Regions from separate parts of the Homo sapiens genome. Here all the other regions are linked to region 3. Evidence: fine-mapped expression QTL. A gene starts in region 3. Each other region holds a variant in brackets. All regions are shown on one strand. Distances are from middle to middle. Region 1 overlaps IGSF9B (immunoglobulin superfamily member 9B). Region 2 has its middle 13 kb from the start of LINC02731. Region 3 holds the start of IGSF9B (immunoglobulin superfamily member 9B). Region 4 has its middle 11 kb from the start of SPATA19.

What was found. PIP is the estimated chance that this variant, and not a neighbour inherited with it, causes the effect. A credible set is the group of variants that fine-mapping cannot tell apart.
Region 1: its variant is the best candidate, but not a certain one, in a credible set for the expression of IGSF9B in whole blood (INTERVAL, PIP 0.83).
Region 2: its variant is the best candidate, but not a certain one, in a credible set for the expression of IGSF9B in unexposed skin (GTEx, PIP 0.72).
Region 4: its variant is the best candidate, but not a certain one, in a credible set for the expression of IGSF9B in whole blood (INTERVAL, PIP 0.69).

Annotation. Positions count from the first base shown.
Region 1 is chr11:133,917,741-133,925,290 of GRCh38, forward strand. IGSF9B (immunoglobulin superfamily member 9B) reads right to left here. Exons shown (of 20, transcript NM_001277285.4): 15 at 7,080-7,164; 16 at 4,829-4,990; 17 at 4,437-4,482; 18 at 2,002-3,657. Among named protein-coding and RNA genes, the nearest start is that of MIR4697, 23 kb to the left of the region's middle. The variant C/T (reference allele first, on the strand shown) is at 3,719.
Region 2 is chr11:134,041,365-134,048,914 of GRCh38, forward strand. No RefSeq gene overlaps it. Among named protein-coding and RNA genes, the nearest start is that of LINC02731, 13 kb to the left of the region's middle. RefSeq lists enhancers at 4,251-4,751, 4,752-5,252, 5,101-6,300. The variant A/G (reference allele first, on the strand shown) is at 4,006.
Region 3 is chr11:133,953,558-133,961,107 of GRCh38, forward strand. IGSF9B (immunoglobulin superfamily member 9B) reads right to left here and starts at 3,411. Exons shown (of 20, transcript NM_001277285.4): 1 at 3,134-3,411. The coding sequence starts at 3,197. RefSeq lists a silencer at 3,240-3,589.
Region 4 is chr11:133,852,284-133,859,833 of GRCh38, forward strand. No RefSeq gene overlaps it. Among named protein-coding and RNA genes, the nearest start is that of SPATA19, 11 kb to the left of the region's middle. RefSeq lists enhancers at 1,499-2,384, 2,017-3,216. The variant A/G (reference allele first, on the strand shown) is at 3,303.

The DNA.
Region 1 (7,550 bases), 36 kb before region 3:
CTAATACCACGAAGATCTCAAGAAGCTGGTGAGGGGCCAGCCACCCCAGGAGAAGGGATGCTATGCCTGGGGCTGCTGGGAGAATAGGGTGCGGGGGGGCTCTTCCTGGATACCAGAGGGGCCCCAGAGAGGTCCCCAAGGGTGCAGAGATGCAAAGCAGATCTCGGGTGTTCTGGGCCCCTTCGGGGTGCATGCAGGGCCCCAGGGCTTCTGTGGGAGGCCCTGGGTGTACTGGCAGCAGGCTGGCGAGGCTGGCGAGGAGTGAGGAGAGCCGCAGGGGGCTCTAGAGGGGCCGGACATGGGGACGGGGGGTGGGGGGCAGAAGCTGCAGCTAGGCGGTGCCGAGCGTGGCTCGATGTGGGGAACCCAGAAGCCGTGGGGATCGAGGAGCGGCAGCGGCCACCCCACGGGGCGGTGAGGGGACATGGTTTGGATCCCCTGTCCAGGAAGCAATGGCCCGGCCGAAGCCCCGTCCGCCTGCCCGCCCCCGCCCGCCCAGCCGAGGAGCTCCCTTACCTATTGAGCTGAGGAGAGGCTTGTCTCGACAACACTGCCCAGATAGCTGAGATCAATCAGAAACAAAGCAGTTACCAACACCGGCCGGGGGGCACCGCCCACGCACACCCAGAGGGAAGCAGGGAGGGGCACAGCGAGCACCGGACAGGCGAGGCCGGAGCGTGGGGGAGGGAGGAGGAGAGAGACGGAGACCCAGACACGATGGAAGGAAGCAGATGAGCTGAGCGCGCACAAAGCACAGAGACAGGGCGGCCGCGGCACCTCCGCGCACAGGCGGCGGCTGCGGCTCCTCCACCTCCCTGCGCCCTAAGCCCCGCACCCCCTTCCTCGGCCGGCCCCGGAGCAGCCCGCGGTGGGGCTGCGGGTGGGAGGTGACCTTGGACTTCCAGGTACCAGGGAGGGTGGGGGACGGGGCAGGGGGAGGGCGCTGGGCTCCCTCCTCCTCGACCACCTCCCATCCTGCCTTCCACCAGGCCAGCCTCCTCTGGAACTCTCTGCTCCCTCCACAGGCGGCTACATCGAGAAGAGAGACCAAAGGACGGAGCCAGAGAGAGAGAGAGAGAGAAGAGGGCGGGGGACGGGGTATCCGGGGGCACTACAGAGGCGTGGCCGGCTCTTCCGAACCCAAAGGCGATGGTGAGGAAGGAAGATAGGAGAGAGAAAGACTGACTGGAGAAGGAAGGAGGGGCAGGGGGAGGAGGAGCGGGGACGGCAGGGAAGAAGGATGAGAGAAGAAGAGGCACAGGCAGGCGTCCAGGCCCTGGTACCTGGAATACCAGCTGCTACAGTTTAGAGAGTGCTCTCTCAGGCGGGCTGGTCGCGGGAGCTGGTCTGTCTCTCTGCAGCTTCCTGCGAGGTATACGGGGGGGGGGTGGGGGACGTGTCCTGCACATGGTCACAAGGCCTGACCCTTTTCTCTGGGCCTCCAGGAGAGGCTGAGGAGGGGGCTGGAGTCCGGCGCTCACTAGGGCTGCTAAGGGCCAGGAGTTCGGGAACAGGAGGCCCCTGGCCTGGTGGTCTGGAGAAGTCAGGCTCCGGGGTCCTGCTTAGCAAGCAGCAGGGGCCGGGGAAGAAAAGGAGGCTAGACACGAGGTGTGTGGGCAACCCCCAGGACCCCTGCCCGATGCCAGGACCGCAGGGACTCGGAGAGCCGTCAACTCCAAGAGGGACGGGGTCCACCCCCGCAAGGGCACGCGCTGTGATCCGCCGCTCCCTGGTAGGTGGTGCGCCCGCCGAGAGCTCAGGGCTTGCCGGAGAAGACGCCTCATGCTCCCGGCAGGGCACCTGGGCAGGTGGGCCCGCTGCGCCCCAGCGACTGCACCCCGCCCAAACCGCGGCGGCCAGAACTCCTCTCCGAGGGACGCCGGTGCGGCATGTCCGCACGAGCCCTGTCGCCGGGCGGATGGACGGGGTGGAGGGCAGGGCGAGGCGGGTGGGGGAAGGAAGTTGCCCAGGTGCGGGTGGCGGAAGAGGCGGCGCACTCACCCTGAAGTAGGTAACGTGGGTGGTGGGGTCTCCGGTCGGAGCAATTCCTCCCCCGTCCTTCGAGGGGAAGGCGTCTGTCCAAACACGTCCAAGCTGTCCCCAGGCCCAGCAGGGGCGGGGCCGGGTGGAGGGGAAGGGTAGCCGGTGGCCAGAGTGGTGAAGCCCATGGCGGGCCGGTAGCTGGGACTCCCACTGCGGCTGCTCTGGGAGGGGGAGCCTGTGGACGGCGTAGACTTTCGAGAAAAGCTGACTGCAGCCGGCGGCTGCAGGGTGATCTCTGACATCTCTGCCTGCTGCAGGAGGCCCGGGCGAGGCCGGGCACGGGCGGCGAGCTCAGGGGAGCCGGTGCGGGAGCTGAGGGGGCTTTGGGTCAGAGGTGAGAGCCGGGAGGGCTGTAGCACCACTTGATGTAAACTGGGCTCGGCGCGCCTGGCCTGCCGAGGGCTAGGCCGGGGCCGGGGCTGGGGCTCATACCACCGGGTGTCCAGGCCAAATGTGCTGGGGCCGCCGTGCGCCCCCGGCTCAGCCGGCTCGGGGTAAGGCAGCACAGGTATGCCCATGCCTTGGCTTGTATGTCGCAGCTGCCCTTGGCTTACCAGAGGTTGCATAGGTCTGTCCTGCCACTTGGCGGCGGGGGGCGCTGGGACAGGGCCCCTGCCGGGCGACTTGCCTGCCCAACCCTTCGGTGCCTCCAGAGACAGGATGCCCGGGTAGGCCGCGGGCACCTGCAGGGAGGTGGGGGGCAGTCCTCGGGGGAGGCCGGCCTTGGGCTGCAGACTCTCGGGCACATCACAGGGTGGCAGCTGGTGGGGGAACATCATCGCTGGGGTCTCCAGCCCCCCGAAGGGGAATTCTGGCCGGCCCCAGGGCTCAGGGGAGCGCCCTCCTGTAGGTGTCTGAGTCAAGGGCAGCGTGCTGTTGGATGCATTCTCTCCATTCTCCTCGGGGATGGTGGGGTGGCCAAAGGGCCCCTCGGTGGGCAGGGGCGGGGACGACATGACGGAGCTCAGGGGGCTGCCCACTTCTGGCACGTAGAACGGGGGCGGCTCCACCTCCCCAGGGCTGCTGCTGCTGAGGTACCCATAATACTGGCCATGGTGGAAGGGCCGGGGGGCAGGGGGCCGGGCCTGGCCTGTGGCCTGAAGCCGACCTTCCAGGCCACCGGGGCCCTCCAGCCCGCGGGGCTGGAACCGAGGGCTGTATGCTGGTGGTGGCAGGTAGGACTCCTGGCTGGATGACAGAGGGGTGAGCTGGGACTTCAGGGCGGCCACAGATGTGGGCACCAGTGGGTCCTCGTTCTCCTCGTCCGACTGGCGGAACTCGGGGTACATGTCCGTCTCCTCGGCGAAGGGGAAGCCCTCGATGCGCCTGCTCTTCAGCGAGGGCTCCATCTCGGCAGGGTCCATCACGAAGCGGCCGTCAGGGCCTCTGCTGATGAGCTCGATGGGCGTGGTGGCCTCTGCCTCGGCCTCTGCCTTGGCCACGCTGTACTTCTTGCTGCTGATGGCCCGCTTGGTCTTCTTGTACAGCGACAGCTCCTTCTCACGGGTGGGGCTCAGCATCCTCTTGGCCGCGGGCTGGCCCTGGTCGTCGGAGGATTCTGACGGCGCTCGGAGCGTGCGGATGCTCTCGGGGCTCACCTTGCCAGAGGACAAGCTGCAAGGAGGAGCAAGAGCCGGGAGGGGATGAGGTGGGGCAGTGTGCTGGCCAGGACTTC[C/T]TTTCCCTCTCTCGGCAACCACCCAGCACCCAGGATCCTCACGCTCAAGAAAACTGGCTGTGTATCGTGGTGTGAAATGCTTTGGCCAACTCTCCACCGTCTGGACGTGAATCCTCCTTTTTTTTTTAAAGACGGGGTCTTGCTATGTTGCCCAGACTGGTCTTGAACTCCTGGCCTCAAGCAATCCTCCTGCCTCAGCCTCCCAAAGTGCCAGGATTACAGGTGTGAGCCGCCGCGCCCGGCCCCCCCCATCATCCGTCTTTCCAGTGAACACCCGCCTCTTCACTTTTGTGCTGGCCTGCCCCCTCTCTGCTGTGCTCTAAGCACACCTCCAGCTTCATTCCCCTCTTTTCAAGACAAGCAAGCTCACTTTAATATCAACTTAAGCAACACATATTAAGGAGGCAAATCTGCTAGGGTGGGAAAACACTAAAGAAATACATTCCAAGGCTGAAGAGAAACTGATTACTGGCTAATTTGGATCATCTGCACTGCCACTCCCTCTACCAGCGTGGACAACTTACAATTAACACACAGGTCAATCAAGAAGAAATGGCTTAGAAACACTGAGATGGGGCTGGGCAAGTACAATTAACACACAGGTCAATCAAGAAGAAATGGCTTAGAAACACTAACATGGGGCTGGGTAAGGCGAGCGGTCTACCTATGCGCCCCCTGCCATGAACAGCACAATTCTCCCAGGATCTGAGACACTTACGGAGACTCCAGGCTCTTCCTGCAGTGGGTGATGGAGAGTGGAGGGTCTGGAAGGAAAGAGAAGGGGAGAGGCTGCTGAGGCCAAGCCAGCAACCACGCAGCACGCGCATCTGCAGAGGCTGACAGAGCCGGAGCACCACCGCACAGGGAAGGAGCTGCTCACAGTGGGCATCTTTGGCCCCTGCCTTCATGCTAGCTTGGGCCCCAGCAGCCTCTCCCCACCACCCCTGCTTCTTACCCCCACTTTCAAATCAAGTCTCACTGGCAGCTCTACCCACAAGATCTCAATGTCCCTATTTCCAAGGGGGGCCATGCTAAAAATGGTCCACCTCTCTTGATGGGGGGCATTTGAAACCGGGCCAGGGAGAGCAAGGGAAGGGGACAGACACCCACCTTTTTTGCGCTTGAGCTTACGCTTGCGCTGCTTGTTGACAAAGCAGGCAGCCAGGGTGCTGAACAGGATGGCAGCTGCCAAGAAGCAGATGGTAGCTACGATTCCCGCCAGCACAGGCCGCGCCAGCCCATCCTCGGTCAGGTCCGGCTGCGGGAAGATGTCTGCAGGGAGGGTGGGGAGCACTCATGAGCCCATCCTTCCCCGGGACCTCACCTGCTCCGACCTTCAGTCCCCAAGTGTTTCACCCTGCCTTTGTAGAACAGACAGTGTCAAGGCTCGGGCTCCAAGCTGAACTCTAGCACTGAAGAGGTTTGGATGGCGTCACGAAGAGGAAGAAGAGAGGAGAGTCTACAGAAGTCAATCTCTCCAAAGGGTGTAAAGAAGAAAACATCTATGCCTGTCCCCATGGGGATAATGACTTCAAGAGTAATCTATACTTATCTAGGGTTTTGCCTTCTGCAAAGCACCTTCATGCACGTTATCAGCTCTTCTCATGTTAACCCCATGAGCTACACAGAGCACACATACTGTTCTCATTCTCTAAATGAAAGAGCTCTGATCCACTGGGTTAGAGAGACCCGCTTACGTGGATATTGCCATCAGTGCCCAAACCAGAACGCAGCTGCCTGCTCCCAGTCTGGGATTTCCTGCCTCACACCAGTGTCTCTACAAAAGGAGAGCCCAGGTGTGAAGGCAACTTGAGGATAAAATACGACTGCAGGAAGAGGGATTATTACTACAAAATTCAGATCCTCTCCCCTTCTAGTACAGGCATGCAACGTCCTGAAGATTCGCATCCTGGTCATCTCAGGTACGGAAGTACCCTAGAGCTGGCAGGGACAGCAGAGATGGAGCCAAATCTCTCGTTTCACCATAAGGAGCTGAACGTCCTCCTTTCCTGCCCAAGTCTACAGAGCTCGTTATGACCGAGCCAAGACTAGACACCAGCCTACCATCTTATACTCATAGGAAAGTTGTGTCGGTAAGTGCCACTGCTTAGGTTCAGCAAAGGCAGAATCGATAGATTGTAACGTATTTGGCCAGAATTCATTGCTGCATCGATAATAATAATGGATAAAAATAATCCAGATGATGCTGATTGTCTGAGGGGAAAATGAAAGCTACAGCCTTTGGAAATGGGGGACCTAATACAGGGAATGCTGAGGCTGCTGCCTCCTCCTTCCCCTGTGTGGAAGTGTCTGACGAGGCACATTTCCTGCCAGGAGCTGGCATAGAGCTACTGAGCACAGAATGGTCAGGGGTGGGCCCACACAACACCCCTTCTTCAGCTCCAGCCTTGGATGCAAGCTCTCATCCCTGTTCCTCCAACTCTGAGTCTATTCCCCACAGAGAAGTCAAGAAAGACTGTGGGTTCTGCTACCTGTAGGACACAACCTTTTTTTTTTAAAGCCCATTGATGCCTAATGTATAAAGCAGAAATTGCACTCCACACCTGCCCCTGCTCTCGTGCTCCCTGCAGTGTGCCCACACCAGCACTTCCCCAACTCTACAAGTCCTGCTGCATGAGCTCCTCAGACGAGGTCACTGTCACCTGGTCCCAGGGGACTCTGGGTGAGCGGTGCCCAAGGAAATGATGCCATCACTTGCTTATAAGCAAGAGCCTTTTCCCATACCAAGGACACCCCTTCACTGGCGGAGGAACCTGCTATGTCTCAGGAACTATAGCTGGAGAGAAGATGTGTAGAAATGGGACCAGGGCCAAGAGAAAGAAAGATAAATGGAGAAAATGCTAGGGAATTGGCTTTATTTAGCCTTAAAAATCTAGAGAGAGGAAGGAAGGGAGGAAAACACCAAACAACAATTTTCCAAATAAAACCCACATAATTATAAAGAAGTCTATCACAAGCATTTGATAAACATGGTTGACCTGTTGTTTCCTCCGATTCACAGCCCCTCCCCGACAAGAGGAAACTGAAAATGTACAGCAAATAGCACTTCAATCAAGTCCTTTTTGACTACTATAATGAGAAGATTAGTTGAATTTCTTTCTGTGGCTGTCTTATACAAGTGTCAGAAACTCAGCTTCTGAGCTTCACGAAATAGCATGCATCATGGAAATATGGGTCTGGTGGGCTTAAGAAAGGCTATGACTCACGCAGCTGCAACCAGGCACTGCCTTAGTTTCCAATCCAGCTTCTCCTCGTGGAGTAGCCATTTCACAAAATGACCCCCATGCAGCTCTGGGGCTTATGTCCCTATAGTTGCAAGAGCACCCTCAACCCAAAATACCTGTGCTGGAGACGCCGGCGATGTTGCTGGGCTCGCTGATCAGATCCTGCATGACGGCCAGAACCCGGAACTCATACCACGTGTCCTGCAGCCCCAGGGACAATACCCAGTCAGCCGAGGGACCTGAGATGACCACTGTCCCCTCACACACTCATCCTGCACACAGCCTTGCAAAGGGCAGGGCACCCAAAGCACAGGAGGACTGCTAAGTGTCTAATGCTAAGCGATGGTAGCACTGGCCAATTGCTGTGGTGTAAACACTCTTACAATGGCTGACTTCAAGCTACGAACGTGAGGTCACCGAAAGCGTTGGGAAGAGATATGTACAACAGGCTCTCCAGGGCCACTGGGAGCCGACTCCAGCAACCACTATTGATAAATAAGTGTCCAGGAAGGAAGACAGAAAGATAGATGAGACTGTATCTTAGGAAACCAGCTGCTTCCTCTCCCCAGCTAGATATCCAAGTTTAA
Region 2 (7,550 bases), 88 kb after region 3:
AATTTAGAGCTTGGGCCCAGAGGTGGGTACCCCTGAAGGTGCAGAGATGAAGGCACGTGGGGTGTATGTGTGTACAGCAGGGACACACTGACACAGACAGGGTGCACATGCTCTTATTCTGGCATGTACACACGCGTACCATGCATACGTGCAAGCAGGAGTGAGGCCAGAAACGTCCCTGGAAACTCCGGCCTACACTCTCTTCACGTGGGTTGGTGTACAGCTACCCACTATGCATACTTCACAAGTATAACTGCCTCCCCACCCCAGCCCCTGCCTCACACGACCCAGGTGGGCACACTCTCATGAGGCACATGGCCACAGGCACAGTCTGGGCCTATCTTGGGGAATGGCCCCAGCCCCTGTGCCTTGTTTCTTCTCTGTTCAGCCACTCTTCCAAAAATTATGACTTCTTCTCAAGAAGGCCTTTCTCTGCTGGTTGGCAATAGGAAACACGAAGTGCCAGCTTCTGCACTTGGCTTCTCCTGGGACTCATTCAGCTGATCCCACCTGCCCACCACCATTGGCCGAGACCGCCTCCCCAGTCCAGTGGTCATCCAGCTACAGGGGGTCTGGCAACTGCTTAGAGAGGCCAGGCAGGGGTCAATGCTGTGTGAGCTCCGTTCCTCTAGCCGGGAGAGAGGGAGAAAGGAGAGCGAGCTCGGATTGCCATCTGCCTAGGTGCAGTGTGGGGCAGGCGGGGAGCGGAGCTCGGACTGCCGTCTGCCTAGGTGCAACGTGGGGCAGGCAGGGAGCGGACAGCACTCTTCAAGGCTCTAGAACGCTGGTGGGTTCCTGGACCTTGACTCTGTGTGACAGGACTGTGTATGCAACCCAGTGTCAAGAGCAGAAATGCGCAAATGCTGCCTATGACCAGTGCCTCAGTGATGCGGCACGCCTGGGAAAGGGCACCCACAGCCTCTCTTTCCACACAGCACACATGCTGTGCACTCACGCACAGCAGCACGTGCCTGCATGCACACACTCTTAGAAGCCTGCGTGAGAGAGAACACGAGCCTTCGTTACTCCAGACACCAAAGCAAGCTCTGAGCTGCATCATCCCTCAAGTCTGCAGTTTAGGCATGGCTCAGAGGCCCCAGCCAAGGCGGCCAAAACCCAGCCATGTGTTGCTCCTTAAGCCATGTCTTCTGCTGAGAGTCTGCGTCAGCCCAGAGGAGGGGCCCTCGGTCTCCCTTGCCTGCCGGGAGGCCCTGTGGTTCCTGGTGTCCAGTGGGCTCAGCGTCACGTCCTGGAAGGAGCCACTACCCGCCTACTGCCCCACTGCATTCCACTCCACACACATTTGGGGATCCAGCGCTCTGTGCAAGGCACTCCATGTCATCATGATGAAGGAGGACCAGCCGGAGTCCCCACCCCCAGACCCCTGCCCCAAGATAGGCTGGCACAGAATAAGATGCCTGCACAATTAGCCATTGCAGGACTCGTCACCCAGGGTGTGTGTGGTCATGAGCCACGCAGAAGGGATAATTCTCTCTTCCTCCTGGGGCCTGGGGGCCTTCACAGAGAACAGGACAGGGGCTTTTGCCTGGGCCCTGAATAATGAACAGATCTCCCCAGGCCAAAGAGGAACTTCTCAGGCAGGGAACTGGCCTGCATGAAGGTGTGGGATTGGGAAGCGTGGACAGGGGCTCGTGGGGAGAAATCAGATCTTGCCAGCAGACAGACTGGAGCTCAAGCCTGCCTGACTTGCCTCCGGTTCTGTGGCTCTTGCCTGAAGGAGAAGTGATTTTGAATTATCTACCTCTCTTCTTACCCCACATGGAAGGAAAAAGTCTTTTTATCTTGAAAGATCTGGACTCCTTCTGCCTTCTGAGCATCTGTAAGATGGAGATACTAATAGGGCCTTCCCTATAGAGATATTTTGAAGATTAAATGAGAGACCTCATGGAAAGCTGTTAGCACAGAGCTGAGTAAGTAAGCATTGTCATTAGTTATTATTATCCTATTTTATAGGCTACCACAGTGATTCTCAACCGATTTTACCCCTCAGAGGTCATTTGGCAATGGCTGGAGACATGTTTGGTTGTCACAACTTGCAGGAGTGGGAGGGAGGCTGCTCCCCGCCCCTGGTGGGTAGGGCCAGGGTGCTGCTAAGCACCCACCATGCACAGGGCAGCCCCCACAGCAGAGCAGAGCCCCCCCAGAATGCAGAGAGCACAGAGGCTGAGAAGGCCTGGGCTGGGGGGTTTCACCTTCTCCTGAAGACAGTGCGGTGACCACGATTTTCAAGCAGGGAATGACATCATAAAATCTAAGTTTCAGAAAGAAAAATCTGGCAACATTGTGACATGTCTAGAAAGCTCAGCCAGGGGCACTGCAGACCTGCAGATGAGACCGGGGGGAAGGAGGGCTGGGTCTGCAGCAAGACCAGGAGGCCGCACATTGGCAAGAAGAGAGCAGGAGAACCTGCTGAGGGCTAGAGGAAGGAAGGGACAGGCCTGGGGCCACTGGAGGACCCTAAAGTTTCCAGCGCATGGACCTGAGCAGATGGTAGTGCCGCCTTTCAACAGCATAGGAAGAAAAGACTCCATTTGGGAACTGTGTCCTCCAGGGCCCAGGTTGGGGGAAGCTCCTCCACCAACCTGTACGTGAGCCATGCCCCTCCAGTCCATCTGCTCCCACTCAAGGGGGGACCACCCTTCAAGAGACCCTCACCCAGCCCATCAGTGCCCAAGAGAGGCAGGCATCCAACTGCACCATCTCCCTCTCCTTCCCCATGCAGCTCCCTCTGAATGATGATCAGTGAGGCCCTGCAAGACAGCCTCCCGAGGCCGAGCCACCGAGCTACAGGACGAAGATGATCTTTCTGGGCTCCTGATGTCCAGACCCTGTCTTGTCTTTCAGCATGTTCAGAATACCTGTGGCTGCTGTGGGCAGAGAGGAGGTACCGGGGAAGTCCTGGCAGACTTATCTATCGGCAGAGAGACTGAGTCTCCATGCCACCCCAATTCCCCCTGCCCTTTTGACTGAGCTCTGAACACAAGTTAGAGGAGCTGGGGGAAAGCTCCAAGCAGTCAATACATCAACCAGTGAGCACGTGACATGTCCTGTCTCGTGCTCAGCGCTGGGGAGGACATCCCCACAAATATCACAGCTCAAATTCACTGGTTGGGAAGGCAAGACTCACAGGCAGAGAAGAGTCAAAAAACTATTAAAGAGGCCCCTGGCATAGTCTGAGGAGCCCTGGATAGAGGTAAGACCAGAGTTCTATCCCCAGGCCTCAGGCCTGAAGCAGGTCCCTGTACTTCCAAAAGCTCCAGCTACACCAAGTTATAGACAACTTCTCATGGCCTGGATTGTGGATGGCAGTGGCGCATCTGATTGATGGGTACTGATGCCTGGAGCACTGTGCTGAGGAGGAATCCGAGGCAGCAGCAAGTTTAGTAGGACTGTGATGGCCAACCGGCGAGGCGAGCGGTAGGTGCCACCGGGATGTCATGGGGATGTACCTCCTGCTTATTAACCCTTCTGGTTAAGAGCAACTGACTGGAGCCATTTCTAAGGACTCCTCCAGCTCCCAAATGGGATAATTCTATGATGGAAACGTTACATTTCAAGGCACTGGCTGGAGCAGAATAAGGCAAAGCAGGAAGAGATCTGCATGGGTTGGGCTGATCAGGGAAGGCTTTGGGAAGGAGGCGGCACTTTAGTGCGGCCTCAAGGTGGGGGAGTGTGAGTAGCTGTACCGGAGGTGGGAGGACGTTTATGTGCATAAAACTGGGGCTGAGCATGGGCTGTTCTTGGTACAGGAGGGAGGCGGCTAGCATCGCTGGAATGCGTTGTCTGTGTTTGGGGCAAGTATGATTACATATGGGAGAGCACACTGCCTGAGAGCTTCCCACATTGAAGCCACAAGCAAAGATGACGTTCCATGCATGCTGGCTTCCAGTCCTCACAGCTCGTCTTCAAGGCAAATGCTCTTCCCAGCCTTCCCTAGCATTCTGTGACTTGCTCAGGGCTACCGCTGGCAGGTGCGAATCCTGC[A/G]TTCAGCCTGGGCAGTGCGGTTCTGATGGCTTCGGGCATAACTTCTCTGCTCTGGTGCCTTCTCTACTCTTAGAAGCTGACCAGTAAGGAAACCCAGCAATGCAGTTGAGACACCATGGCCGGATCTGTGGATTCTAGGGACCAGGAAGAGGCAGGAACAGCTGTAGACTGAGGAAGGAGGGCCTTGCTTGAGCCATCAGTCACACAAACAGATCCAAGCAAAGAACAGGGCAAGGTGGACACAGATCAAAGATGGGCACTAAATGCCACTGGGTTAGGGCTTGCTTTAGACCCCCCCAAGTCCTACATAATCTACTGGAAACAACAAAAAGTGTCCCAACCCTCTGGGAATAGGCAAGAAGGTGTGGGAGGTCATGAAATTCCAGGGACGTGGGGCTCAGCCTGTGAGGATGGGAATAGAGCCTGCCATGGTCTTAACACCAGCCCAGAGGCAGAAGGCAACTGTCTAAATAAAGATCTCATTTCAGACAAAGCTTAACCCTGCCTTTGCCCAGGCCCGCAGCCTCCAGCTGTCTCCACGCTGTCCCTGCCTGGCACCTGGTGGTGCGCTGGGGAACTTTCTCCCTCCTTCACAGCCCTCTCTCCTTCCTTTCTCCTTACTGGGTTCACAGACAGCTCCAGCCTCCACTCAGCTTGGCCTCTCAGTTCGACGGCACGCAGAAGATGCTGCTGTGCGCCGCCCTGCCCCAGGCTCCTGAGCAGGGGAAGGTGCTGTCGTGCGCCGCCCTGCCCCAGGCTCCTGAGCAGGGGAAGGTGCTGTCGTGCGCCGCCCTGCCCCAGGCTCCTGAGCAGGGGAAGGTGCTGTGTCTCGTCTTGCTTTCTTCACCTCTCCCACCACCCTGGTCCCCACCCATCCGGGGATGGATCCGAAACCAGCCCGGGTATGAAACTCTCCGGCCTCTCTCCCAAACATCCTCGTGCCCCTGCTCCCCTTGCTCTGGTCCCACTCCATCTCAAGCCCCCTCTGCAGTCCTCCCTTCTGGTTTCTCCCTCTGGCCTCCGGGAGGCCTCTGGTGCCCGCACAACTTCCTGGCATTGAGGAAGGACCAGAGCTGTAACGTGGGGCTGGAAGGTCCCAGAACCACCAGCTAGTCCTGCCCTGCCAGCCTCTCCTTGTTAAGCTCTCCCTCCTGCTGTTCAGTCTATGCTCGACGACTAGAGGCCTGATTTTGAAACTCTCTTTTGGGGCCACTGGGTCAGGCCAGCCCTCCTCACTGTCAGGAAATGTATCCTCATTTCTTACCTTAATTTCTCAACCGCAGCCGTTCTTTCTTGCTCTGAGAAGTCACCCGGCGTGATGCTGCGGCCATGCTACTCCTCAGCGCTCTGCTTCCCAACCAAAACAATGCTCCTTCTCATCTTTTCCAAAGCTTCCGGCCCCAGCAGTTCTCGGACCTGGGGTAGTTTCCTCCCCGCAAGTAACAAAGGAGGACAAGCCCCAGCTTCTCTAAGATGCCTTCAGCTGCCTGGAAGAGGCCTGTGGAAGGCCCTGCAACTCTCCGCAGACCTCTGGGCATTGCTGCTGCTTCTCAGTGCCCCTCGTCCCCTCAGCCAGGTGAGTCACCATCATCCTCGCTCCTCCCAGACCCGAAACCTCTCCTCTCCCATCCTTCCTTCTCTTTGTATCTCTTTCCGTTTAAACACGCGAACGAACGCGTGTCCACACACGCATATCATTTCGGGCCCTATCTGGAGCTGTCATTGACAGAACTCAAATTGTGATAGGCAAATTGGCTTCAATGTCAGAGACAGGAAACCCAGTATGCATCTCCCGGTGCCTGGAGAGCGAGGAGATAAGAGAGCAGAGATGGGCTGCCTCGGCCAGCAGCACCGGAGCAGGGACGGTAGCCAGGGAAGCAGGTCTTCTGCGGCTCCGGCTCAGGCACCAGAGTCCTGAGTGCTGGGGACCCTGGCTTGATTCTTACCCCCAGCGTGATGTGGGATAACAAAAGGAGGATGGAGCACCTCCGAGATGCACTGAGCCCTTCCCGAGGGCTTCTCTAAGACAACCCAAGTTCTTTCCTAGCGGGAATCAGACATCTACAGCAGGGACCCTTAGCCCCCAGATGCCACATCCTACATGTAGGGCCGGTCACTGCCCTGGCAGTTAGGAGGGGACGGGTGAGAGCTGCTGCCGAAAAGAGGAGCAGCCGTTCCAATGCCATCATACCTCTGCTTGTCCCCGTTACATAAAGCTCCAGCTGACTTGGCGTAATGACTAAGAAAACTTTCCAAACTTTCCGAAGACAGTTGGTGATCCTCTACCCTCCCGGTGACTGGTGAGAACTACCCCCACAGAGAGCCAGCAGAGAGGAAGGCTCCCAGCTCCGGGCCCTGACTCATCACACACACAAACACTCCCCAGCACTCTTTCCCAAAACAGTTCCCCTCCCACCCATCCACCCTCCTACCGGGGCTGGGTGACAAAAATGAACGCCCCAGAGATCTTGCCAAGTTCTGGGCCACGCTCAGCCCAGGGAACACGCAATTCCCCGTAGAATGGGAGGAGCAGGCCCCGCCCCCTCTGGAAGCAAACAATGTCCATTGGAAGGAAACGACCACCTGACTCTACAATGATCACTGTACTGTTTTCCAAATACCTTGGACCACTCTCCCCCAAGAAAGAGTTCAAAGCTCTATAATCATAAAATATTAGAGCTTAAGGCAATCTTAAAGGTCATCTGTAGCGCCTCTCCCCTTCCCTGCTTCCATGCATCTACACGTGGATTCATTTCTTTATCTATCTGTTCATCAGATAGCCACTCAGTTCCTACAGTTTGCCCATGTGCAACGCACGCACTGGAGGCCTCACAGACGCACTGTCTCCTCAAGGCGCTTGTCATCTAGTGGGTGAGAAAGCAAGTGACAAGGCGTTGGAATAAGTAGGACAGGCACTGTGGTAGGAAGAGTGCATGTTCTAGAAGCACCGAGAGGGCACGTCACCCCCACCTTGGGGTAGTGGGGGGAATTCATGGAGACTTACTGGGAGATATTATATATATCTATGTATATGTACATAATAAATATAAAAATGTATTATAAGTAAATATATAAAATATAAACAAAAATATAAAATATATAAATATATATTATATAAAATATACATATATATTTTTTGAGACAGAGTTGGGCTGGAGTGCAGTGGCACAATCTCGGCTCACTGCAACCTCTGCCTCCTGGATTCACGCAATTCTCATGCTTCAGCCTCCTCAGTAGCTGGGACTACAGGCACACACCACCACGCCCAGCTAATTTTTGTATTTTTAGTTGAGATGGGGTTTTGCTGTGTTGACCAGGTTGATCTCGAACTCCTGGCCTCAAGTGATCTGCCTGTCTCAGCCTCCCAAAGTGCTGGGATGACAGGCATGAGCCACTGTGCCCAGCCTGGGAAAAATTATATTTAAGTTGAGCTATAAAAAATAAGGAAATTCCTTTTCAATCAATAAGAGGTCTGCTCATCACTCAGTACGGCTAAAGCATAGTGTCAGGCACACTGCATGATGATGAATCGAATGTAGTGTCCA
Region 3 (7,550 bases):
TAGGTCAAGGCCAGGTAGAAAGTAGAGGGCAATGGCCCAACTACCAGCAGGATCTGAGTCAGAACCTCACTGTATTTGGGGACACTGTAGTCAGGGATAATGTAACGACAGAATCTGTGGCAGACAGAGGAGGCAGCCGTGGGAGTAAAGTCTGGGACTTTCCTCCCCTATCCAAGGTCCACAATCAGCTAAGCACGGCCCAGGGTCCTCCCACAGAGTAGGAACTCCCCCGGGCTGGCTCAGCAGCCGTCTGAGATACTGAGTGCACACCAATCACTGTCTTCCAGGTTCTGGGTACCACTCCAGCCCCTCTCTTCTCCACACTTCCCCAACCTGTCCACTGACCTTAATCACCTCCCAGGCACACACACTCAAAGTCAAAAGGAGGAGCCCATTCCAACCTCTGTCCCGCACCCGAGGGCTGATGGAGTCGGGTCCCAACACAACATCATCCCTTTCCCCCTCTGCCAGAGCAGCCCCTGCTATGGCCAAATCCTAAGGGTGGCATCTCAAAGTCCCTCCTGCTGAGGGACTGCCCCAGAAGTCACCTCTGCCAGTCAGGGAACAGCTGAGCTCTCACAGGGAGACTCAGCAGCATGTGGACACTGGCTGGTGCTGCTCACACGAGCGGGCGCCCACCCGCTCTCTCCAGAGGCTGTGTGTTGCAAGCCCTCACTTCCCGGGCTGTGTCCTTCCATAAACCTCTGGCCACCAACAACACTCCAGCTTTGGAGACCTTGCAAAGGACTTCCGAGCAGCTTTGAGGCCCGCACATCCTGCACACGTGTCCCTGGGATGCCAGGGACAAGAGGTTCTGCCCAGACAAGGTCAGCCCAGAAAGGGGTCTTACTTCCTGACACAGGCAGCCTTCTGAACTTCCCCGCAACACATTCTCAGCTCCTAGTGCCCTGAATGGCCCAAGGGAAAGAAATTGAGGAGGATCTTGGAATCCCAGGGACACTGAGAAAATAATGTTAATGTTTACTGAGCACGTACTATATAACAGGTAGTTGTTTTGTTTCCTTATAACACTCATGTCCACCTAAAAACCCTAAAAGTACATGCTATTGGCACATTTTCTATTGAAGCAAGTGACATTTAGAGAGGTTGAGAATTTGTCCAAGGTCACAGGGTCGGCAGGTGACACAGCCAGAATCTGAATCCCAGTCATATGGCTCTAGACCTAGGTCCTTAACTACCACACACAGAGCAATTGAGGCTAAGAAAGACCCCAAGACCAGCAAGGTCACCCTCTGCTTCCAGACAGGGGTACATGTCCAGCCATTCCAGACAGAAGGACCCCTCTGCACCCTGAAAGAGGGCATAACCTTCATGCCAGGCAGCCTTCAATTTTGGGAAGCCCTTCCTTCTATCTTGCGATTCTGCGTGTTGCTGCAGTATAAACTCACATTCCTTTATTCTGGGCTGAAACTTGCAAAGAAGTCCATTGCCCACCCTGACTTAGGTTCGGAGGCTATTTCAGAGCCTTCCTTCAGCGTCTCTTTTCTATTCAAAGATCCCAGCTCATCCTTTTGTGCTTTCAGGGACAGTCCCATAGCAGGAACATACCAAAAACGGGAGGGGAGGAGGATGCGGGCATTGGAAGACGGCAAGGAAATGGGGGAGAGGATGAGGCTACAGGCAGACTGTCAAGCGCAGCCCGATGCACCTCACATCCACCCCCCGTTCCGTAAGCTTCCGCCATCACCCTTGCCTCAGTGTTCCCACCTGACAAATGAAGAGTTTTAAAACCGTCCGGACCAACATGTCAGTTAACAAAATCACCCTTCGCTTCGCCCTCTGCTCGTTCTGTTTTCAGACACCACCACCCCCCTCAGAAGCAGAGGCGACATATTCATTCCATTCCGGAAAGTTTCCTGAAGCACGCCCCCCTGCACAGACGAGTGACGAGGGGACCCCGTGAGAGGCGCCTCCAGCCCACCCGGCGCCCCATGCCGCTGGGAGAGGGTTCTCTGTCGGCGAGTCCTGCCTGCTGACTCCCACCCACAGCGGGTTCTCTCCCGCCGCCATCTCCTCCGGCTTGGTGAACTTGCCCGCAGCCGGGTCGTGTCTGCGCGCTGACAGCCCTGAGCTCACAGTCCTGGCACCCTCCAGGCTCCGCTCCCACTTCCATACAAGGGCCGAGAGCCGGGGGTGCCACCCAGAGGCTTGTAGGTCGCTCTGCCCATCTCCAAAGCAAAAGCCCGCGCGCTCACGCACGCATCACCCAACTCGGTGGCTCCCCCCTTGCGTCTCCCCCAGCTCAGACCCAGGAAAGCGGAAAGAGAAAATCCCCCCTCCGCTCGGATTCACAGCGTGGGGACCCCCCCTTCCCCGCCCCTCCCCTCCCCCGCCGCCGCCCCCAGCCAGCTCTGCCTCGCAGCCTGGGGAGGGCGGCGTGGGGCCCGCGCGGCTGCGGCGCGCTCCCGGGGAACTTTTGCCTGGCCGGGGCCCAGGTGCGGCTGAGAGGCGCGGGGGCCGGCGGGGTCCAGCCAAAAGCGGACACACCTCGAAGCTGGCCTCATCAATCCTCCTCTCACCGGGCGCCCCTGCTAGGGGGATCCGACCTCCAGCTGCCAAGATGTGTGGGCAGGAGGGGCGCGAGCGGAGCGATGGACGCCCGCAGGGCCGCGCGAACCCGGGGCCTTAGACGCGGGTGCCGCCAGTCCCAGGGATCCTCCGGGTCGCGCCTCCCTGCAGGCGCTCCTCGCGGCGCGGGGCTCTAGCGTGCTGCAGCCTGCCCGGAGACCGCAAACTCCCGCAGCCAGAGTTTCCCGCAGCTCTGGGAGGCGGCCGCCGGGCAGGAGGCGACGGGCTAGGCGCGCCGGTGTGCACCGTGGGGCCCGTGGTGGGCGAAGTCGACCCAGGTTCCACTGCGTCCTTTCCCCGAGTGCCCGGCAGCCCGTGGGCTCTGGCCCCTTCCCGCCCGCCCCTCCAGCCCACGGCCCCCAGGCCCTCCCCGGCAATGCTCCCGGGCCGCCTGGCCCGCGTCGGAGCCCAAGCCTCACCCGCGGGAAGGCGCGCCGGGGAGCTGGGGAACCGGGGGGCCAAGGAGCCGGGAAACCGAGGGGCCGGGCGCGAGGGGCCGAGGGCGCCGGGAGGGGCAGGGGAGGGACGCCGCACTTCAACTCACCTTCAGCCGCAAGCCCTCGGGTGCCGATCACACTTGCTATGAAAGTGGCCACATACCAAATCATAGTACTACCGCGCCAGCCCGGAGCCTCATCCTATCGCAAAGTGCTCCCGCGCCCGCACGCGCCTCGCGCCCGAGCGCCCGCCTCGCGCCCGCCTCGCGCCGCCTACGCCCCGCGCCGGTGCTCCTGCAGCCCGGGTGGCCAGCTCTCCATCCCTCCTAGGCTCCGCTCGGCTCGGCGCGCGCCTCCCCGGCCCCGGCGCAGCGGCACCTGCACTACTCGCCCGGGCGGAGCGCAGCCAGGTCCACGGTGAAGCCTAGCCGGGCCGGGCCTCCGGAACCGCCCCCGCCGCCCGCCTATTGGGCGCCGCCCGCAAGCCGGGGGTCCGATTGGCTCAGCCTTCCGCCCGTCGCGGCGCGAAGGAGGCGAGCCCATTTCAAGGTGCGTTGAAGTGTGGCGAGCACAGAGCCGCAGAATCATGCGCATTGCCGGGGAGAAGGTGGTATAGCGTCTCTGCCCGCTTCTCTCTCGGCTCACACTGCGTGGCAAGTTTCTGGTGAGGGAAATGGTAGCTTCTAACGGGACCCTGGCGGGTCTCAATTACCCCGGACAGGTCTGAGGGAAGTGGAGCCCCCGCCCACTCATGGAACCCAACATCCGGTTTCCATCCGGCAAAAAGCAGTTCCCGAGAGGACCATGCTGATTCTATGATGGGGAAACCCAGGAGCCGGCGGCCCGGGAGAGCCGGGGAACGTCCTTCGCCGGAGATCTTTTCAAAGAGGTCACGCGCCGCCTCCCCACCCCGTCTCCCTCCGCACCCAGACACGTCCCCAGAGCAGCGCACCACCCCCTCCAAACGTGATGCAGACCGGGGGATGACTAAAATGACCTCTCAAAGTCGCTAAGATTTAGAGTGAGTCATTGGCTCAGCTGCGAAGTGCCACAGACCCCTCAGGAACACTCGTGCACACACACTCCACCCCCAGTGCTGGTCACTGCTGCTCATCATTACTGAATCCCGACTCCAAGCAGTCAAAGTTGGGTCTTTTTCCCACTTCTCCTGATAAAGGCTGCTTCCTCACGCACATGGTTCCTCCCCTCTCCACCTTACTCGGAGCCCAGCCCCGACTCGGCCGCATGAAACCAAGATGGGTTTGGGGGAAGCTTTAGGAGTCTGGGATGGAGGAGACCCAGGGAAAGGGAAGGAGCTTCTCATCCTACAGAGGAATGTAAATAGGAAACTGGAAGGTCTTCGTATGTTCCAGTCTCCCTACCCTAGCCTGTCTGCTTCCCCTCCCCCAATACAGTTGTATTTGCAGAAGAAATAAATGAGTGTCATGGAAACATCTACTACAAACAATCACCTCACACCAGCGCTCAGAGGCTGCAGTGAAGATGTTTGTTCTTTCAAGGAGTGAAGGCAGTGGTAAGAATCACACCGCTCCCTGGGATGGGCTGTTGGCCAAGGAAGGAAGGCAGAGGGTCAGCGAGCGAGAGCTCAGGAATTTCATCCTCTCAAAGCACTCGTTAGCCACAAAGCCCTGGCTCCAGGACATGAAGCTCCCAAAACAACAAGAAGGAGACTTGCTTCTGGGAAAGCGTGCACACAGGTACACACACATGCACAAAAAGTGGCCTTGAACACCGGAGGTGGAGCATTCCCTGACACCGGAAGCCTCTTAGCTCACCGCCAGCTGGGAGGCAGAAAGAGGCCCCCAACAGAGCAGTCAGTGAGCACATGGATAAAGGTCGAGGGCCTGGATAGATCCAGAGAACCAGGACTGTTGAATAACCTTCTACCCTACCCACCCCTCCACCTGTGCAAACACACTCAAGATGCATAACTTGGGGCCATCTCTCCCTGAGCCATGATTTTGGTTCTCTTCTTGGGCAAAGATGCCTTTCTGGGGACAATGAAGTGAGCTGCTCCAGGTCTCATTGATGCAGTGATCTCCAGGTCTCATTGATGCAGTGATTTCCAGGTGGCATGACCCAGAATAACTCCACCCCCAACACACACACACACATATACATACACACACACTTACACACTTTCCCAGGGCCCCGGGACTGTAAAGACATATTGGAATCCATTTGCAGAATTGGTCATAACAGGATCCTTCTCCTCCCACAACCTCTAAGCAGCTAACTGTGGCCTAGAGAAAAGTGCCGGATCCACAAAGCCTGGCCCTAGTTCCTCACCATTGTTAGGTATGGAGTGGGAAACATCAGGTCTCAGAGAAACCCTCTCCTAGGGGCCTGCAGGGCAAGGAAAAAGATGGAGCCACTCTCACCACCCATCTTGATTGCTTTGTCTGGCCATCCATTTGTCCTACTCAGGGTTCTGCCTCCTGCTAGGAAAGTAGAACTGTCTGTCAGAATGGATGGCGGGCATGGAGGCTCATGCCAGTAGTCTCAGCTCCTCAGGAGGCTGAAGCAGGAGTATTGCCTGAGCACAGGAGTTCTAGGCTCAGTGATCATGCCACTGCACTCCAGCCTGGGTGACAGAATGAGACCCTGTTAAAAAACAAACAAAAACAACAACAAAAGTGTCTGTCAAATTGGAAAGAAAAAAACACGTAACAAGCTTTAGAACATGAGTTGGGTTGGGAAGGGGTTCGAAGGATCTATCTAAAGAGGAGAACAAATTTCTTCTGGATAATTCTACTGGAAACAGAGTGGAACAAGGGATGAAGGCAGAGAGGAAGGGGAAGAAAATTAAGATACAAAGGGAAAAGTTCGTCATCATCATCATCATTAGACATGTCTCAACTGGGTTTCAGATCAGCTAAAGAGAGATATACTGTATCAGCTTACAGTGAGGAGTGAGTCTGATCAAATCTTTTCCTCTTGGCGTATGGCTGAGCTTTGGACCCAGAAAGGATGGTTGCCCCTTCCTAGAATAGACACATCCAGTTGAGTGTTCAAGGGGAGCATGGACCCCAGATGTCCAAAAGGGACATGAGGGAGGAACATGAGCCACTTCCCTGCGCAGCTCCTAGGTGTACCTGAATGTCATCGATGTCACTAATAAATGCAGTAATATATCCAGGAATGCTATGTATATCAGATACGGGAGTGTCTGTCATCTTCTTTTAAGAGGTACTGACTTTTTGGAAATACAAAACAATAGTCTTATCAGTGTGTCTATGAAAAAAAACCAAATGTAGCCACCTACCTGCACATCCCAGAGGCCTTTGGAGGACATGTGAGAAAGGGGGCTGACAGGAGCTTCAAGTGTAGGAGAAGAGGAAACTATCCTCCTTCCCTCCTCATAGTCATCGAACAAGGAGGACTCAAAAACAATAGTTCACTTGTCTGTCACTTCTCACCTTCCTCAGTGGTTCCAGCCCTCATTGCAGAATCTAGGGTAGAACAATTGTTGGGACAGCTGCTTGTGAAAAGGAGAGGCAGTTCTAAATAAAAGCAGTTTACTCAACACAAACACCAAAGAGCGTGTTTAGTGTTTACATAAATAGGGAACTGTATCAGTTGTCTTACCGTGTAAAAACCCAGCCCAAAATATCATGGCTTAAAGCAAGAAGGCTCATTCATTTGCTCTTGAATCCGCAATTTGGACACTGGCTGGTGAGGACAGCTCTTCTCTACTTCATGTGGCATCAGCTCCACTGGGGTGTGGACCTTTCTCCTTTCAGGATGGCTTACTCACGTGGCTAGCAGGTTGACGCTGGCTGTTAGCCTGGGCTGCCAGCAAAGGGCTGTGATTCTTCCTCAAGTGGGCCTCTCTGCAGGCTGCCTGGGCTTCCTCAAAGCATGGTGGTTCCAAAAGCTGGCATCCCAGTAGAACCAGGTGAAAGGCATATGACCCTTCATATCCCAGCCTTGGAAGACACCTAGCATCACTTCCATCAGGGTCAAAAACCTGCCCCAATTCAAAGGGAGAGGACACAGTTCCCCACCTCTCAATAGAACAGTGGCCCTGTCACTTTTTTTTTTTTTTAGACGGAATCTTACTCTGTCACCCAGGCTGGAGTGCAGTAGCGCAATCTCAGCTCACTGCAACCTCCGCCTCCCAGGTTCAAGTGATTCTTCTGCCTCAGCCTCCCAAGTAGCTGGGCCTACAGGCACATGCCACCACATCCGGCTAATTTTTGTATTTTTAGTAGAGACAGGGTTTCACCATATTGGCTAGGCTGGTCTCGAACTCCTGACCTGGTGATCCACCCACCTTGGCCTCCCAAAGTGCTAGGATTACAGGCGTGAGCCACCGCACCCGGCCCCTGTCACATTTTAAGAAGAACTTACGGGATGGGAGAGAGTGTTGCAGCCATTTCTGGATGATACAATTTGCAATGAAAACAGTCTTCAAAATTGAAGGAAAAAAATGACTGCTAGAAGAAATATCTAGAAAGAAAGGTATATATTAGAGTTCTCCAGAAAAAATAGAACTAATAG
Region 4 (7,550 bases), 100 kb before region 3:
TGGTGTCCATTTGCATGAAATGCCTTTTTCCACCCCTTTACTTTATGTGAGTCTTTATGTGTTAGGTGAGTCTCCTGAAGGCAGCAGATAGTTTGGTTGGTGAGTTCTTATCCATTCTGTGGTTCTGTATCTTTTAAGTGGAGCATTTAGGCCATTTACATTCAAAGTTAGTATTGAAATGTGAGGTACTGTTGCATTCATCATGCTCTTTGTTGCCTTTGTACTTTGCTTTGTTTTTTGTATTTCGTTTTTGCTTTTTAACTTATATTTTGTTTTATAGGTCCTGTGTGATTTATGCTTTAAAGAGGTTATGATTTGATGTGTTTCCAGGATTTGTTTAAAGATTTAGAGCTTGTTTTAGCAGTTCTTGTAGCAGTGGCTTGGTAATGGAGAATTCTCTCAGCAGTTGTTTATCTAAAAATGACTGTATCTTTCCCTCAAATTTGATGTTTAGTTTTGCTGGATACAAAATTCTTGGCTGATAATCGTTTTGTTTGAGGAAGCTGAAAATAGGGCCCCAATTCCTTCTAGCTTGTAGGGTTTCTGCTGAGAAATCTGCTATTAATCTGATAGGTTTTCCTTTATAGGTTGGTGCTTCTGTCTCACAGCTCTTAGGATTCTTTTCTTCATTTTAACTTTGGATAACCTGATGACAATGTGCCTAGGCAAAGATCTTTTTGCAATGAATTTCCCAGGTGTTCTTTGTGCTTCTTTCTTTATTTATTTATTTTTGAGATGGAGTGTCACTCTGTCGCCCAGGATAGAGGGCAGTGGCATGGTCTCAGCTCACTGCAACCACCACCTCCCAGGTTCAAGCAATTCTGCCTCAGCCTCCCAAGTAGTTGGGATTACAGGTGAATGCCCCCCAAGCCCAGCTAATTTATTTATTTGTTTGTTTATTTTTTATTTATTTTATTTTTTGTATTTCTAATAGAGATGGGGTTTCACCATGTTGGCAAGGCTGATCTTGAACTCCTGACCTCATATGATCCACCTGCCTCAGCCTCCCAAAGTGCTGGGATTACAGGTGTGAGCCACCGTCCCTGGCCTCTTTGTGCTTCTTATATTTGCCTGTCTATGTCTCTAGCAAAGCTAGGGAAGTTTTCCTCGATTACTCCCCCAAATATGTTTTCTAAGCTTTTAGAATTGTCTTCTTTCTCAGGTACATTGATTATTCTTAGGTTTGGTCGTTTAACATAAACCCAGGCTTCTTGGGTTTATGTTCATATTTTCTTATTCTTTTTTCTTTGTCTTGGTTGAATTGGGTTAATTTGAAGACCTTGTCTTCCAGCTCTGAATTTCTTTCTGCTACTTGTTCAATTCTATTGCTGAGACTTTCCAGAGCATTTAGCAATTCTAAAAGTATGTCCAAGGTTTCCTGAATTTCTTATTGTTTTTTCTTTAAGCTATCTATTTCCTTGAATATTTCTCCCTTCACTTCTTGGGTTTCCTTGCATTGGGCTTCACCTTTCTCTGTTCCCTCCCTGATTAGCTTAATAACTGACCTCCTGAATTCTTTTTCAGGTAAATCAGGGGTTTCTTCTTGGTTTGGATCCATTACTGGTGAGCTAGTGTGATTTTGGGGGGATGTTGAAGAACCTTGTTTTGTCATATTACCAGGGTTGGTTTTCTGGTTCCTTCTCATTCGGGTAGGCTCTGTCAGAGGGAAGGTCTAGGGCTGAAGGCTGTTGTTCAGATTTTTTCATCCCATGGGGTGTTCCCTTGATGTAGTGCTCTCCCCCTTTTCCCGTGGATGTGGCTTCCTGTGAGCCAAACTGCAGTGATTGTTGTCTGTCTTCTGGGTCTAGCTATCCAGCAAGTCTACCTGGCTCCAGGCTGATACTGGGGGTTGTCTGCACAGAGTCCTGTAATGTGAACCATCTATGGGCCTCTCAGCTGTGGATACCAGCGCCTGTTCCAGTGGAGGTGGCAGAGGGTGCAATGGACTCCGTGAGGGTCCTTAGCTTTGGTGGTTTAATGCTCTGTTTTTGTGCTGCCTGGTCTCCTGCCAGAAGATGCTGCTTTCCAGAATGCATCAGCTGTAGTAGTGTGGAGAGGGACCAACGGTGGGCAGGGCCCTAGAACTCCCAAGATTGTATGCCCTTTGTCTTCCGCTACCAGGGTGCGTAGGGAAGGACCATCAGGTGCGGGCAGGGCTAGGCATGTCTGAGCTCAGACTCTCCTTGGGTGGGTCTTGCTGCGGCTGCTGTGGGGACGGGAGTGAGATTCCCAGGTCACTGGAGTTGTGTACTTAGGAGGATTATGGCTGCCTCTGCTGAGTCATGCAGGTTGTCTGGGAAGTGGGGGAAAGCCAGCAGTCACAGGCGTCACCCAGCTCCCACAGAATCTGAAAGACTAGTCTCATTCACACTGTGCCCTCTGCAAGAGCCCTGAGTCTTTTTCCAGTCAGAGGGCGATACGGCTTGAAAACCTGCCCGGGGCTTTCCGCCTCCCAGCTGTGAAAGAAAAGGGCTTTAGTTATTCCCCACCATGAAGTCTGCAAGCCATATTCCCGCCCTCCTCCGTGTTCTCACCAGGAGGCTTCTCACCCCATTCAAACTGTTACAAAGTTCAGCTAGAGAATTCCTTCTCCCTGTGGAGTTTTACCCCCTGCTCCTCCAGCCACTCTCCTGATGGATCCCTGTGGTGCCAGGCAGGAATGGGCTGCTTGGGGAGCCAGCAAGCTCCCAGGGCCTTCCTGCTGCTTTCTCTACCCCTGTATTTCACTCAGCTGGGCTCTCTAACTTGACTCAGCTCCAGATAAAGTCAGAAACTTCTCCCACAAACAGTCCTTCAGCTTCTCCAGTGGGGGTGTGTGTTCAGGAGAGGAGGGTCTCCCTTTCCCACTTCCACACTCGGGGCACTCACGGTATTTGGGGTGTCTCCTGGGTCCTGCAGGAGAAGTCCACTTGCTTCAGAGGGTCTGTGGGTCCTCTCAGGACTGCTTGTTTGTTCTTGCAGTCAATCTGGAGCTAAAATTCATAATGCAGGCCTCCACATGCCGCTCTGCTGGAACTGCAATCTAGTCCTCCTCCCATGCACCGTAATCTGTGATGAACATCTGAAAAAATATTATGTGGAATGGAAATATATTTTGTTTCTCTTGGGTAAATTCCTAGGACTAGATTGATAACTTTATGCTTAACATGTTTTACTTTTTCTTAACAGCTTTATTGAGACATAATTCATATTCCATAAAATTCACCCATTTAAAATATACAATTCAATAGTTTTTAGTATACTCACTGGATGGATGTACAACCATCACCTCGACCTAATTTTAGAATATTTTTGTCACTCCA[A/G]AAATGAAACCCCGTACCCATCAGTAGTCAAACCCTATTTTCCCCCAACCCTCTCTCTCAGCACTAGGCCACCACTAATCTACTTTGTCTCTACAGACTTGCTTATTCTGGACATTTCATATGAATAGAATCATGCAATATCTGGTCTTTTGTGACTGGCTTCTTTAACTGAAGATAATGTTTTTGAGGGTCATCCACATTATAGCAGATATCAGCAATTCATTCCTTGTTACTGCAGTGTAGTATTCCATTATATGAATGTGTCACATTTTGTTTATCCATTCATCAGCTGATGGACATTTGGATTATCTCTATAAACAGAGGCAATATGAATAATGCTCCTATGAACATTTGTGTACAGGTTTTTGTATGGACATATGTTTTCATTCTCTTGGGTTTACATCTAGCCGTAGAATTCCCAGGTCATATGGTAACCCTATGTTTAACATTTTGAGGTACCGTCAAAATGTTCTTTAAATGTCTGAATCATTTTACTTTCCCATCATCAATGTGTGAGGGTTTTGATCTCTCCACATTCTTGCCAGCATTATTACCTGTCATTTTGATTTTAGCCATCCTAGTGAGTGTGAAGTGGTATCTCACTGTGGTTTTGATTTGTCTCTCTCTAATGATTAATGATGCTGAGTATCTTTTCCTGTGATTATTAGCCATTTGTACCTCTTCTTTGGATAAATATATACTTAAATCCTTTTCCATTTTATAACTGGATTATTTGTCTTTTATTGTAGAGTTGTTAGAATTTTTATGTATCCCTTGTACAAGTGTCTTATCAGATATATGATTACAGATATTTTCTCCCATTCTGTGGGTTGCCTTTTCACTTTCTTAACTGTGTCATTTTAAGCACAGAAATTTTGAATTTTTATGAAGCCCAATTTATCTCTTTTTATTTTGTTTCTTGTACTTTTGGTGTCAAATCTAAGAAACCGTTGCCCAGCCTGTGACCATAAAGATTTAATCCTCTGTTTCTTCGAAGGGTTTAATAGTTGTAGCTCTTGTGTTTATGTCTATGATTCATTTTTAGTTAATTATTATAAATAGTGTGAGGTAGAGGACCCAACTTCATTCTTTTGCATGTAGATATCCAGTTGTCCCCACCCCATTTATTAAAAAGAATATTCTTTTTCCACTGAATTGTCTTGTCATCCTTGTCAAAAATCAAATTATTATAAATGTAAGAGTTTACTTCTGGACTGTCAATTAACCAATGTGTCTATCCTTATGCCAGTACCACACTGTCTTGATTATTGTAGCTTTATAGTATGCTTTAACATACTACAAAGTTTGAGTTCTCCAACTTTGTTCTTTTTCAAGATTGTTTTAGCTATTGTGGGATCCTCAAATTTCCATATGAATTTTAGAATATAAAAAAAGCCTACTGGCATTTTAATAGGGGTTTATTGATCAGTTTGGGGAGTACTGCCCTTTTGACAATATTAAGTCTTCCATCCATAAACATCTATTTCTATTTATTTAGATCCTAAATTTCTTACAACAAAGTTTTGTCATTTTCAGTGTGCAAGTCTTGCACTTCATTTGTTATTATTCTTAGGTATTTATCTTTTTAGTGCTAGGGTAAGTGGAATTTTTTTCTTAATTTCATTTTGGGTTTTTCATTGCTAGTGTATAGAGAAGTATAGTGGATTTTTGAATAATAATCTTGTATCCCACAACTTTGCTGAACTCATTTCTTGTAATAGTTTTTAGTGAATTCCTTAGAATTTTTTATGTACAAGATCAGGTCGTCTGCAAATAGTTTTCCATCTCCCTTTCCAATCTGAATGCCTTTCATTTATTTTTCTTGCCTAATTGTCCTGGCTATACATTATTCAATAGAACTGAAGGAACAAACATCTTTTTCTTGCTCCTGGCTCCTGATTTTAGGAGAAAAGTATAGTCTTTCACCATTAAGGATAGTGTTAGTTGAGAATTTTTTCATAGATGCTTTTTATCAGGTTTATAAAGTTCACTTTTTATTCCTACTTTTTGGAGTGTTTTAATAATCAAAAAGCACTGGATTTTGTCCAATGCTTCTTCTGCATTTATTGAGGTGAACCATGTGGTTGTGGCTTTTACTCTATCAATATTGTGTACTACATTAGTTTTTGATTTTCAAATGTTAAACCAACTCCAGGGATAATCCCACTTGGTAATAAAGTATGATCCTTTTTATATGTGCTGAATTCAGTTTGCTATTATTTGTTGAGAATTTTTACATCTATAAGAGATATTGGGCAATAGTTTATTTTCTTTTGATGTCCTTGTCTGGTTTTGGTAGCAGGGTTTTGTAGCATTCAATTCCTCTTGATTTTTTAAACCTCATAGAATGAGTTGGAATACTTTCTTTTTTCTTCTGTTTTTTGGAAGAGTCTGTAAAAGTATGAATAGTAGTTCCCCTTTAAATATTTGATACACATTTAACTTTTTAAGAAATGTCAAACTTTTTTCTGTAATATTTTACATTTTTATCAGCAAGATATGAAGGCTCAAGTTTCTCCAGATCCTCACAACATTTGTATTATCTCTTTTTATAATAGACATTCTAGTTGGTGTGTAAAGAGGTATATCATCTGCCTTAACTTGCATTTTTCTGATAGCTTATAATATTGATAATCTGTTTATATTACATTAGATAGCTAATAAACTATATATTAGATATCACACCAACATATATATAACATATATATGTTTTATATATATCTAAATCTTTATATATAGATTTTGATATATATGATATATATTATATTAGATAGCTAATAAACTATATATTAGATATATATTAGATATATAGATATTAGATATTATACCAACATATATATAATTTATATATATTTTATATATCTCTAAATCTTTTTATACATATAACATGTATAAAGATTTTTATATATCATTATATATAAAGATTTTGATATATATGATATATATACACACACAAAACTTATATATATGTTATATATATAAAAGTTGATATAATATCCAAATATTTATTTTTTTAAAAAATTAAGTTGTCTTCTTTTTATTGAGTATTGTGTTCTTTACATATCCTGAATGCAAGTCCCTTATCAAATTATGATTTGCAAGTACTTTCTCCCAATCTCTTGCTTGTCTTTCAATTTCCTAATGTTTTCTTTTGAAGGCAAAAAGGTTTTAATTTTAATGAATTCAAATATTTTTTCAAGTATGAAATATGTTTTTGGCATCATATCTAAGAAGTCTGCTCAATCTAAGGTCATGAAGAATATTTTGTTTTCTTCTAAAAGTTTTATCATTTTATAATAGCCTAAATGTAATTTAGGCGTATGATCTATTTGAGTTGTTTTTGTGGATATGCTGTAGGTAAAGATCTGTATATGCTTTTTCTTATAAACATATAATTATACCAGCACCATTTGTAGAAAAGACTGGTTTTTGCCCCCACTGAATTGCCTTGGCACCTTTGTTAAAAATTAAATTGACCTTAAGAGTTTATTCTTTTGTGCATTCTCAGTTTTACTTCATTGGGCTTATCCTTTCACCAGCACCACATCGTCTGATAATTATATCTTGGTAGTAAATTTGAGATCAAGTAGTATAAATCTTTTTTCCCAAAACTTTTCTGGCTATTCTAATTTCTTTGCATTTCCATGGAAATTTTAGGATAATTTTGCTAATTTCTACCAAAAAACGCCTGCTGGAATTTTGATAGGCATTGTTTTGAAGCTATAGCTCAACTCACCTAGACTGTCTAATTTGTTGATTTAAAGTTATTTGCAGCATTTCCACAGAAACTTTTTAATATCTATAGTGTTGGTGGTCACGTCCTGTCTTTCAGTCCTAATTTTAGTAATTTGTTATGTTCTCTAGGTTTCCTTGCTCATCCTGTGTAGAGGTGTGTGAAATTTTAAAAAGTCTTTTCAAAGACCCACCTTTGGTTTACATTGAAATTCCCTATTTGTTTTTCCTCTGTTATTTTTCTGTTTTCTATTTCATTGTTCCTAATTCTTGTTTGTTTTTTCTTTCTTTACTTTTGTTTGTCTTGGGCTTCTTGCTCTTCTTTTTCTAGTTCATTAGGTGGAAGTTTAGATTATTGATTTGAGATCTTCCTTTCTTTCTAATGTAGGTGTTAAATATAAATTTCCCTCTAAACATAGCTTTAGTTGTATTCTGTAAGTTGCATATTCTTGTAAACTCAATCCAAAATACCTTGATTTATTTTACCAAGGGTTATCTAGAAGTACAATATTACAC